Homo sapiens: one gene and its partners. The protein of the gene in region 1 purifies or fractionates together with the protein of each later gene. This does not show direct contact. Each region holds a gene or a part of one and is shown in the gene's direction. Other genes may lie near its edges.

The links.
Region 2: the proteins of ANP32B (region 1) and ACTR3 fractionate together in Homo sapiens (co-fractionation; one large-scale study listed by BioGRID). This does not show direct contact.
Region 3: the proteins of ANP32B (region 1) and SERPINA5 purify together in Homo sapiens (co-immunoprecipitation; one study listed by IntAct). This does not show direct contact.

What each region holds. Positions count from the first base shown.
Region 1 is NC_000009.12:97,993,202-97,996,932, forward strand, and holds part of ANP32B (acidic leucine-rich nuclear phosphoprotein 32 family member B), read left to right. Parts: intron 1-1,429; coding exon 1,430-1,579; intron 1,580-3,731. UniProt on the Homo sapiens protein: Multifunctional protein that is involved in the regulation of many processes including cell proliferation, apoptosis, cell cycle progression or transcription.
Region 2 is NC_000002.12:113,952,416-113,956,146, forward strand, and holds part of ACTR3 (actin-related protein 3), read left to right. Parts: intron 1-3,207; coding exon 3,208-3,291; intron 3,292-3,731. UniProt on the Homo sapiens protein: ATP-binding component of the Arp2/3 complex, a multiprotein complex that mediates actin polymerization upon stimulation by nucleation-promoting factor (NPF).
Region 3 is NC_000014.9:94,587,926-94,591,425, forward strand, and holds part of SERPINA5 (plasma serine protease inhibitor preproprotein), read left to right. Parts: coding exon 1-56; intron 57-2,115; coding exon 2,116-2,386; intron 2,387-2,823; coding exon 2,824-2,971; intron 2,972-3,500. UniProt on the Homo sapiens protein: Heparin-dependent serine protease inhibitor acting in body fluids and secretions. Inactivates serine proteases by binding irreversibly to their serine activation site. Involved in the regulation of intravascular and extravascular proteolytic activities.

The sequences.
Region 1 (3,731 bases):
TAGGCACTTACTATGTTGTGGGCATTGCTGACTTGAAATCTGTTTCCTTCTCTGTAAATGGGGGAAGGAGAGTGGTGGTAAAAAGAATAAATGATTAAGTACTCTATAATTGATAGCAATTACTAGAGTAGCATCATTGGATTTTGTATGAGAGGATGAGGACACTGTTAATAGCTCCTCTTCTCTTTTCAGACTGTCAGCATCTCCCTACTGTATACATGCTTGATTAATGCTATTAAATATGGTAGGTTCACTAAAAGAATGCCTTTGTTGGTGCAGTTAAAATGGTAATTTGCATCACTGTGAGTAGATCAAAGTGAGCTAAAAAGTTGCAAGTTTCAGGATGATCATAGAGCAAGAATGGCAATATGGATTATTGTGGTGGATCTGCATGTAGACTATTAAATAATCAATATTCAAAAGTTCAAATCATCAGATGTGATACTGTTTTTGAGATGGAGTCTCACTCTGTTGCCCAGGCTGGAGTGCAATGGCGAAATCTCGGCTAACTGCCACCTCCACCTCCCAGGTTCAAGCGACTCTCCAGCCTTAGCCTCCCAAGTAGCTGGGATTACAGGCACTCGCCATCTTGCCTGGCTAATTTTTGTATTTTTGTAGAGGGGGTTTCACCTTGTTGGCCAGACTGGTCTTGAACCCCAGACCTCAGGTGATCTGCCCACTTCAGCCTCCCAAAGTGCTGGGATTACAGGCGTCAGCCACTGCGCCCGGCCAGATGTGATACTCTTGGATGGACTTAAATTCTGAAAAAGAGACTGTGTAGCCTGAAAATGCAATTTAATTTATTATGTAGCAGTTCTCTGCTAGAAACATCTTTCTCAAGTGCAATCCAGATTGATCTTTGTTTTGAATTAAGGACTCTTGCATCCTGATTTTTTTTCCCAGTGTCAAGATAATCTTGGCAAAGATTACTAAAACCAGAGTTGGAAAGTGCGTTGGTGCAGAAACCTCTAGCCAGAATCTCTTAGTGGTCTTGATAGGAAACATAAAGCTTTCCTCTTTTCCAGGGGTCATCTTCTGGGCCTTAAGGTAGACCCAGCCTAAAGAGTGTCTTCATTCTGCATTTGCATTTAGATAAAAGCTGCCCTTTGGGGAACAGGCTGGAGAAAAGAAATAAGGGGAATACGCTTACTTCACTTATATCTTAAAAAGTATAGTTTCTGTTTCTGGAAAAACAAAGAGCGTAAGTGTTTATACCCATGGAATAATATTCCATCTTTGAACCTGTCAGTATATTGTTACTGAAGGCTTAATCAGTTTTTATCTTTTTATAACTATGATCTAGGTCTAAGTAAGAGGCTGCCTGTATATATGGGTGTTTTTGCAGGATATTTATGGTAGAAGTTTCTGCATTGTTGTTTGTTTTCAATGTGTTTTTGAGAGCTTATCCTTTTTTCTTTGTCATCCACAGGTTCGAGAACTTGTCTTGGACAATTGCAAATCAAATGATGGAAAAATTGAGGGCTTAACAGCTGAATTTGTGAACTTAGAGTTCCTCAGTTTAATAAATGTAGGCTTGATCTCAGTTTCAAATCTCCCCAAGCTGCCTAAATTGAAAAAGGTAAGTGCTTTTTCTTTAACAGTAAAAGAGAACGATCCTGGGAAGGGAAAATGTATGATTTTACCTGTAAGGAAGCACTTAGTGTAGCAGAAAGCACATGGCCTTTGGAACTGGGCAGATATGGGATTGAATTCTAGCCCTAGCATTTCCTTGATGGGCAAACTTCTGCAGGTTACTTAATCTCTCTAAGGCCCAATTTCCTCACCTGTAAACTGGTGGTATTACTTGACCTTGCAGAATTGCTGTGAAGTTTGGAAATAATGCATGTTGGGTGCTCAATAAGTAGTAGTTAGGAAGAATAATTACTGTGTTGAGTAATTTATTTGTTAATTGTTATAAAAACAATTCTCTATCCTTTCGGAAAAAGGGACCAAATGCAACATAAAAATGTTTTCTCTTGTCACTGCACATTTAACTGTCACAGAGTCCCAGAATGTCAGAACTGGAAGAAACTTTGCTCCTCTAACCCAACCCCTTATTTTATAGGCACAGCAATAGTCCCAGGAAAGTGTAGTAATTTGCCTAAAGCCACCCACAGAAGTGGTTAGTACTAGAGCCAAAACTAGAACCCGTATCTCCTAACCCCATACCCTTCCCATTATATAGGAAAAGATATGTGGTTATATAAGTCTTGCAGAATTCTCTGCCATTTCAATATTCGCTTTACTAGGAAAGTTAAGTTGTACCTTTATTTAAACTAAGGCACACGTAGAAGGAAACTAATCAAACTTGGGCAAAGGTAGGTTGTGCCTAGAGCTTGCTTGAGTTCTGAGTGGGACAGTTAGTTTTTTGGTATTGGGGTTTGTTTGTTTGTTTGTGGTTTTACAGCAGGTGGAGTGGGTTAAGTATAATACATGAGGCCAGTCATGGTGGCTCACGTCTGTAATCCCAACACTTTGGGAGGCCAAGGTGGGAGGATCACGTGAGGTCAGGAGTTCGAGACCAGCCTGGCCAACATGGCAAAACCCCATCTCTACTAAAAATACAAAAAAATCAGCTGGGCACGGTGGCACGCACCTGTAGTCCCAGCTAGTCCGGAGGCTGAGGCACAAGAATTGCTTGAACCCAGGCGGTGGCTGAGGTTGTAGTGAGCCAAAATCACACCGCTGCATTCCAGCCTGGGCGACAGAGCAAGACTCTGTCTCGATTTAAAAAAAAAAAAAAAAAAAAAGTATAATACATGAATTAAAAACTGGAAGTATTTTTTGTTTTGCTTTCTTTATTTGCCTTGTTTAGGTAATATTAAATGCTCAAGCAGTCTTCGTGAGTTTCAGGTGACCGTTTCTGATGAGAAAGAAATTTCCCCTTCTAAGTATACTAGAGGTTCAAGTATAATTCTTTTATATTTGCATGGGTTATCAGTGACATTGGAAGCTCTGATTAGCCCAGTTAAACATAGTATAGCTTTTTAGCATCTATTTACATAAACTTGATGCTAGCAGATCCTTAGTGTGTGTTTTGTGTTGTTTTCCTAGCATTCTGATTTATTTTCCCAAATTACTGTTGGTCTCTGTACTCTCAGACTTATTCAGAAATTCAGCCTATCAGTGACCGTTTTTATAGGGACTTTAATAAACCTTTCAGAATTCTGAATAGAGCTTGTTTGAGTTCTGAGAAGGACAGGGTTTTTGTTTTTGTTGGTTTTGGGTGGGAGGGCACGTTAAGTACACAAATTAAAAACTTTTAACATTTAAAACATTAATCACTTCCCTTATAGGGCTAATGAGAGGGAATCATACTTAAAGGCAGGTTGAGTGTACTCATGATTGATAAGAACTTTATTTTCTTCCTATTCCAGAACACAAATTGGTTTTGTTTTGTTTTGTTTTTGAGATGGAGTTTAACTCTTGTTGCCCAGGTTGGAGTGCAGTGGTGCCATCTCGGCTCACTGCAACCTCCGCCTCCCAGGTTCAAGCGATTCTCCTGCCACAGCCTCCTGAGTAGCTGGGATTACAGACATGCACCACCACGCCTGGCTACTTTTTGTATTTTTTTTTTTGTAGAGATGGGGGTTTCACCATATTGGTCAGGCTGGTTTCGAACTCCTGACCTCAGGTGATCAGCCCACCTCGGCCTCTCAAAGTACTGGGATTACAGGTGTGAGCCACCGTGCCCGGCCCACAAATTGTTTTTAACAAGAAATAAGTACTGA
Region 2 (3,731 bases), on another chromosome or scaffold:
TTTTTTCATCCTTGTTAAATATTGAAGCAGAACGTTGATTTAGAGGAATGATATGGCTTTTTTCAAAGCTGTTTGAAAAAAGGTATTTCATGTGAATAAAATACCTTCTGCTTGGAAGATTACCAAGAATGAGGACTTTATCTGAGACTTCCATAATCATTCAGAATTACTTAAAAGTAAAGCACAGCACTCTAGGGTTTGCTGATTGTTGAGAAATTGCATGATGGCTGACTGTTGTCAGTGCCTATATTTTGATTATCTTGAGTAAACCTATCCCTAGGAATGCAGTAAAAAGTATATGTTTTGGGTGGAAGGCAAAATATTGAACTCTGTCCCTATAATGTCATGACTTCACACTTCAGGAAGTCTACTCAATAGACTTTTAAAATGTTGTGTTTGCTTTTGCATCCCCTTCCCAACCAACCAAACCACCAGCCCACCCCCATTCATCCATTCATTTGCCCATCCGTCTACTCCCCTTACCCACATATCTATCTACCCTACCTCCTACCTAAAAAAGAAGTCATTGGGTTTTGCAAGTATAAATTCTCTGTACTGAGAATCCTACTAACCACATTGATTATGTGAATGAACATAGTGCATGTTCTGGTTTTTTTGTTAGAATACTTAAAAGATTGAAGTTGATTGTCCTAATGGTATGGTTATGGATGTATTAAAGTAGCTGTTTAGTTTTTAATAACTCATTACAGATATATAAGTACAAAACAATGCTGTATGTTTCTGAGTATAGTATTTTAAAAAAGTGAGATTGTTTAACATTTTTAAGCTCTTTTTACACTTGTAAATAAGAAATAAATTTACCCAGTGATCAGTACCGTATCGACATATTGAAAGAAACAGATTGGGTGTCCCTTTTTTGAATTGCTTCATACCAGAAGTGTTGCAGGTTTTGAGTTTTTCTGGATTTTGGAGTATTTGCATTATATACTGGTTCAACATCCTTAATCCAAAAATCTGAAATTCTGAGCATTTCCTTTGAACATCATGTTGGTGCTCAAAAAGTTTTTGGATCTTGGAGCATTTTGGATTTTCAGACTTGGGATGCTCATCATGTATAGGAAAAACCTTGTGTTTTGGAGGACTCTGCCTTCTTCACCTTAGTTTTACTTGCTAGTAACTTTTATAGATCTTAATAGCATGCCTTTATCTATCTATCTCTGGCTTTATTTTCCTTCAGTCTGTAATTTTTAATGGCAACCAAACAGTTTTGAAAAAAGCCATATCATTCTGTTTCTATAAATAGGTGTGTGTACACACACACACACACTAAATTGTAGATATGATGGTTCATTATCCCCAAACATTTTAGTATATTTCTAAAATCAAGAACATATTACAATTATCAAAATCATGAAATTAACCTTGATCCAGTGTTATCTAGTTATAGAACTGATTCTAATTTTACCGGTTGTTTCACTAATGTCCCTTATAACAAAAGGAAAACAAAATACCTTCTTCCCCCTTATCCAGGATCCAATCAAGGATTGCATGTTTCATTTACTTATTGTGTTGCTTCAGTCTGTTACATACTCAATGTTTTTTGTCTTTCATGAATGAATGTGACATTTTTGAAGAGTACAGCCATTTATTTTGTAGCATATCCTTCAGCTTGGGTTTGTTTAATATTTCTGCTTGAGTAGGTTCAGATTATGTACTTTTGGCAGTGATGCCACAGAATTGATATTGTATCATTTTTAGTGCATTGTATCAGTAGACACATGATAGAATTTGTCCTGTGTGTGAATTTTGAGCTTTTGGTTGAAGTTGTGTCTGCCAGGTTTTTTCACTATAAAGTTATTATGTTTTCCTTTATATTTAATAAGAATCTAATGAGGAGACACTTTCAGACTATCCTGTTTCTCTTTTAAGTTTCAGTCACTAGTTTTTAGCATCCATTGTGATTCTTCCCTAAAACAGTTATTACTGTGGTAGTTGCTAAATGGAGTTTTGCAATTTCTGTCATTCCTTCTATGTTTTTAAGACTTGTTTTACTATAAGCAAGAGTTTTCCCTTCTCCCACATTCATTTATTCTTTTAGTAATATCTATATGAACTCCTGATTTCTCATTTTGTGGTCTATATCTTTAATATCACTGTAATATCATAATATCAGTAATACCACTCATCATTAATTTTAATCCCACATTTTTTTTTTTTTCAGATTTGACCAGTGGGAGTTATTCAAATGGCTCTTAGGTTTTTTTTTTTGATGCAGCCACATCTTTTTTTTTGCCTACTTCTGTACTTCCCGGCACAGCAAGGTGTTTCAGGCTGATCTTGTACTTTCTCTTTTCTGGCCCTGGAATCAGCCCTTTTTTTCTCCTTTTCTTTCTTCAAGACACCCTTGTCTTATTCCTGTTAGTGGAGAACGTTACTAAGAAACCAAGCTTTGTGCTCATTGCTGTTGGGGTATCACTGAGTCTAGGCCTTCTCAGTGATTAGAGCTAGGGGTGTGTGTGTGTTTATACATCTATATCTAATTCTCTACATAAATTAAAACCATGAATTTTTACAGACGTCTCCAGTTATAGAAGGTTCACTCTAGTTTTCTGCCCTTCCATATTGTAATGCCCTTCTCTGACAGTGAGAAACCTGGCTCCTATTATCTATAATATGTTTATGTTTTTGCTTAATCCTGGAATATGTATATGATAGTTTCAGAATTGTTAATCCACACCACTGTGAAAAATAGACCCAAAACTAGAATTCAATATTTGCTTATATTTTATCTTCAGCCTGAAGGCTTATAAGATTCAAAATACTATGCTCACAAGTTGCTTGTGTTAGTCCCTTTCCTCACCTTAGTGTGCTTATGTTTGAAAAAAGTACAATTAGTTTAATTTGTTTTTGTTGTACTTTGTTTTGCCCCAACCTCCCCTTCTTTTAAGGTGTTATTTTTTAGTATGTAAAACACTAACATTTAGATTCTTAAAGTCAGAACTGTATAAAACATGTGCTCATTGTTATTTCCCTTCCATTTATTCTGCTCTGTTCCCTCCCTGTCTCTTCCACAGTGTTCCCAACCCCTTTCCTCTGAGACAGCCAATCTCAATTGTTTCTGGTTTGTAAGATACCACCTGAATTTAGTACAGATATTATTTTTGTATATGTACATTTAAGGTTAAATGACACAGAAGTTGTTATTTGAATTTACTATGAAGATGATCATACTATGTCTTTCTTTAGCCAAAACCTATTGATGTACAAGTCATTACACACCACATGCAGCGATATGCAGTTTGGTTTGGAGGATCAATGCTGGCTTCCACGGTGAGTGTGATGAAGCTTACTTTTATTTTATTTTATCATTATTATTTTATTTATTTTTGAGGTGGACTTTCGCTCTTGTCACCCAGGCTGGAGTGCAATGGCATGATCTTGGCTCACTGCAACCTCCACCTCCTGGGTTAAAGTGATTCTCCTGCCTCAGCCTCCCAAGTAGCTGGGACTACAGGCATGCGTCACCACACCTGGCTAATTTTGCATTTTTAGCAGAGACTGGGTTTCATCATGTTGGCTAGGTTACTCTTGAACTCCTGACCTTGGGATCTGCCCACCTTGGCCTCCCAAAGCAAAGTGTTGGGTTTACAGGTGTGAGCCACTGCTCCTGGCCTTTATTATTATTATTATTTTTTATTGAGATGAGGTCTTACTATGTTGGGCCAGGCTGGTCTCAAACTCTTGGGCTCAAGTGATCCTTCCACCTCAGC
Region 3 (3,500 bases), on another chromosome or scaffold:
TAAGAACCTCGATAGCAATGCGGTCGTGATCATGGTGAATTACATCTTCTTTAAAGGTAAGGCCCTTGGGCCCAAACCTGCACTTTCTTTGGCTTTTCTGCTGCTTTTATCTAAAGAATACCCAATTCCCTCACATACATAAAAGACGGGGAGTACGTTAAGTTCTTTTGGGTGCCTGTTGAGAAAAATTAAGTAAACAAGCAGCCAGAGAAGGTAAGATGAATGCCTTCTTGCTGTGGATGGGATTAGTGAGGCTGAGATGCTGTTTCCTCCACGGAGGAAGAGCTGGTTGCTGTCTTCGGGCCCCTGGGGACATCTGAAGCCCCAGCTTTCTACAGGCTCTGAAGTATGAACCCATTGTGGCCACCATGGCAAAGACACCAACACCTTAGCCACTCAGGGCAGGACACAGACCCCAGAAGGGCTTAAAGGGCATTTCCCAGTCCCCCGTATCCCTCAGATCTTGGCCCCTCTGCCCTCATAGAGGCCAAGACTCCCTCAGACAAATGCTTGTTCCTCTGAAATGCCTCCTCCTGACTCCTCAGCAAGAGCTGACCTCTGCTTATCTCCCCGACACTCCTTGTAAGCATTCCTGCTCGCCTCTGCAGCTCCTGCCAGTTGCTGACCCTGGGGAAAGCAAGAGTGGATAGAGAGGAGAAGAGAGGAGAGGAGAGGGTGGGAAGGGTTGCGAAGGAAGGTAAATTGTTAACACCTCCCCTTCCTATGGTCACAGATCATGAGTATCTTTGGCCATTTGGGTGGCTATAACAAAATACCATAAACTGGGTGGCTTAGCAACAACAAACATATATTTCTCATAGTTCTGGAGGCTGAGAAGTCCAGGATCAAGGCACTGGCAGATGCAGTGCCCATTCCTTGGTTCATAGAGAGTGCCTTCTTAGTATATCCTTGCTGGAAGGAGGAAGGCAGCTCTCTGTGGTCTCTTTTGTAAGGACACCGATCCTGTTCATGACAGCTCCACCCCCATGACCTAATCAACTCCCAAAGGCCCCCTGTCCTAATACCACCACCTTGGGGGTTAGGTTTCAACATATGAACAATGTGGGGACACAAACATTGAGACCACAGCAGTGAGTGTCGAACTTGGACTCTGAGATTTCCTATCCCCTGGTGCAGGGCAGTCCCCATTACACCAGATTGCTGAGGGCAGCTGGGAAATAAGCTAAGGACGGTATTGACTGGGGTCTTCCTTCGATAACGATTAAGAAGTTGGAAACAGGCCAGGCATGGTGGCTCACGCCTATAATCCCAACATTTTAGGAGGCCGAGATGGGCAGATCACCTGAGGTCAGGAGTTCGAGATCAGCCTGGCCAACATAGTGAAACCCCGTCTCTACTAAAAAATACAGAAATTAGCCAGGCATGGTGGTGGGCGCCTGTAATTCCAGCTACTTGGGAGGCTGAGGCAGGAGAATCACTTGAACCTGGGAGGTGGGGGCTGTAGTGAGCCAAAATTGCGCCACTGCACTCCAGCATGGGTCACAGAGCGAGACTCCATCTCAAAAAGAAGAAAAAAAGAAAAAAAAGAAAAAAAGAAATAAAATAAAATAAAAAGAAGTTGGAAACAATCACTTGTAGCGTTTTGTTCAGAAGTTCCCATAGGAAGGTCAGAGAAGGGTCATTGAAGACTTCCCAATGGGAAAAACCATTCATTTCCAGGATCCATACTAACTTCTTTCTAAAATTTAAATCAAAATATTGGAATGAAAGTGCAAACAGAGAAGTTCACCCAGATATCAGGTAGCATTCACAGCCAGCCACATTTTTCACCCTCTTCACTTGGAGATTTGGTCTTGAGTAAAACGTTAGAGAATCAGAGAACATCAGGGGTCCAGGGCCTCTGAAGATGTGAAAACCAACCTCCTTGTTTTGCAAATGTGGAAGGAAAAGTCCCACGAAAAGTCCAAGAATGTGCCCAATGTTATAAAGAGACTTGCCTTCATATTCAAGAGGTTCAACAGTCACTGCTCTGGGGCTGCCATAAAGATGGTCTCCGCTGGCTATCTTTACTGTCTTCACTCCTTTTATTTGCAGCTGAGAATTTCTAATTCTGACACAAAATTCTTTTTCATTTTTCCCTTTTTTCATCTTTAGCTAAGTGGGAGACAAGCTTCAACCACAAAGGCACCCAAGAGCAAGACTTCTACGTGACCTCGGAGACTGTGGTGCGGGTACCCATGATGAGCCGCGAGGATCAGTATCACTACCTCCTGGACCGGAACCTCTCCTGCAGGGTGGTGGGGGTCCCCTACCAAGGCAATGCCACGGCTTTGTTCATTCTCCCCAGTGAGGGAAAGATGCAGCAGGTGGAGAATGGACTGAGTGAGAAAACGCTGAGGAAGTGGCTTAAGATGTTCAAAAAGAGGTACTTTCAGACTACCCCAGGGCCAGCCTAAACCCACACAGCCCCAGGGAGACACACACGCCCTACCAGGGCCACACAGCACTGGTGGGAAGGACTCACCCAGCCAAGGAGCTGCCTCCAGGCCCAGAGGCATCCTGTGACATCCAAGTCCTGGGGGCCTAGCCCAGTTGGAGGGACAAGAGCTGGAAACTGGGTTCCTTAGGGTGGTGCCAGAGTGGGCAGAGACCTCTGGGCAGCCCACGTCCAAGTCCAGAGCAAGGGGAGGCTCATCCTAGAAAAGAGGCCAGAGGAGCCATAACCACCATTGTTCCTTGGGTTAAGGAGTCCTTTTTTAAAACCATCAAAACTAAGAATCCAGTGCATTATGAATCCAAGGGGTGAGGCTCAGTGTGCCAATGCCCCAGAACAGTCTAAGAAAGCTCCTTTTCCCTTTCCAGGCAGCTCGAGCTTTACCTTCCCAAATTCTCCATTGAGGGCTCCTATCAGCTGGAGAAAGTCCTCCCCAGTCTGGGGATCAGTAACGTCTTCACCTCCCATGCTGATCTGTCCGGCATCAGCAACCACTCAAATATCCAGGTGTCTGAGGTGGGTTCAGAAGCTCCTATGCATCTGCTTCCCAAGGTCTATTCTGTTCTATTCTTTCTATTCTACTCTACCCCATTTCATTCCATTCCATTCCACTCAACTCCACTCCACTCCACTCCACTCCAGTTCACTCTATTCAATTCCACTCCACTCCACTCCAGTTCACTTTATTCAATTCCACTCCACTCCACTCCAGTTCACTCTATTCAGTTCCACTCCACTCCACTCCACTCCAGTTCACTCTATTCCATTCCACTCCATTCCACTCCTCCACTCCTCTCATCCACTCCACTCTACTCCTCCACTCCACATCTCCACTCCACTCCTCCACTCCACTCCTCCACTCCACTCATCCACTCCACTCCTCCACTCCACTCCTCCACTCCACTCCTCCACTCCACTCCACTCATCCACTCCACTCTTCCATTCCACTCCATTCCACTCCTCCACTCCACTCTTCCACTCCACTCCATTCCACTCCTCCACTCCACTCCACTCTATTCTATTCTATTCCATTCCATTCTACTCT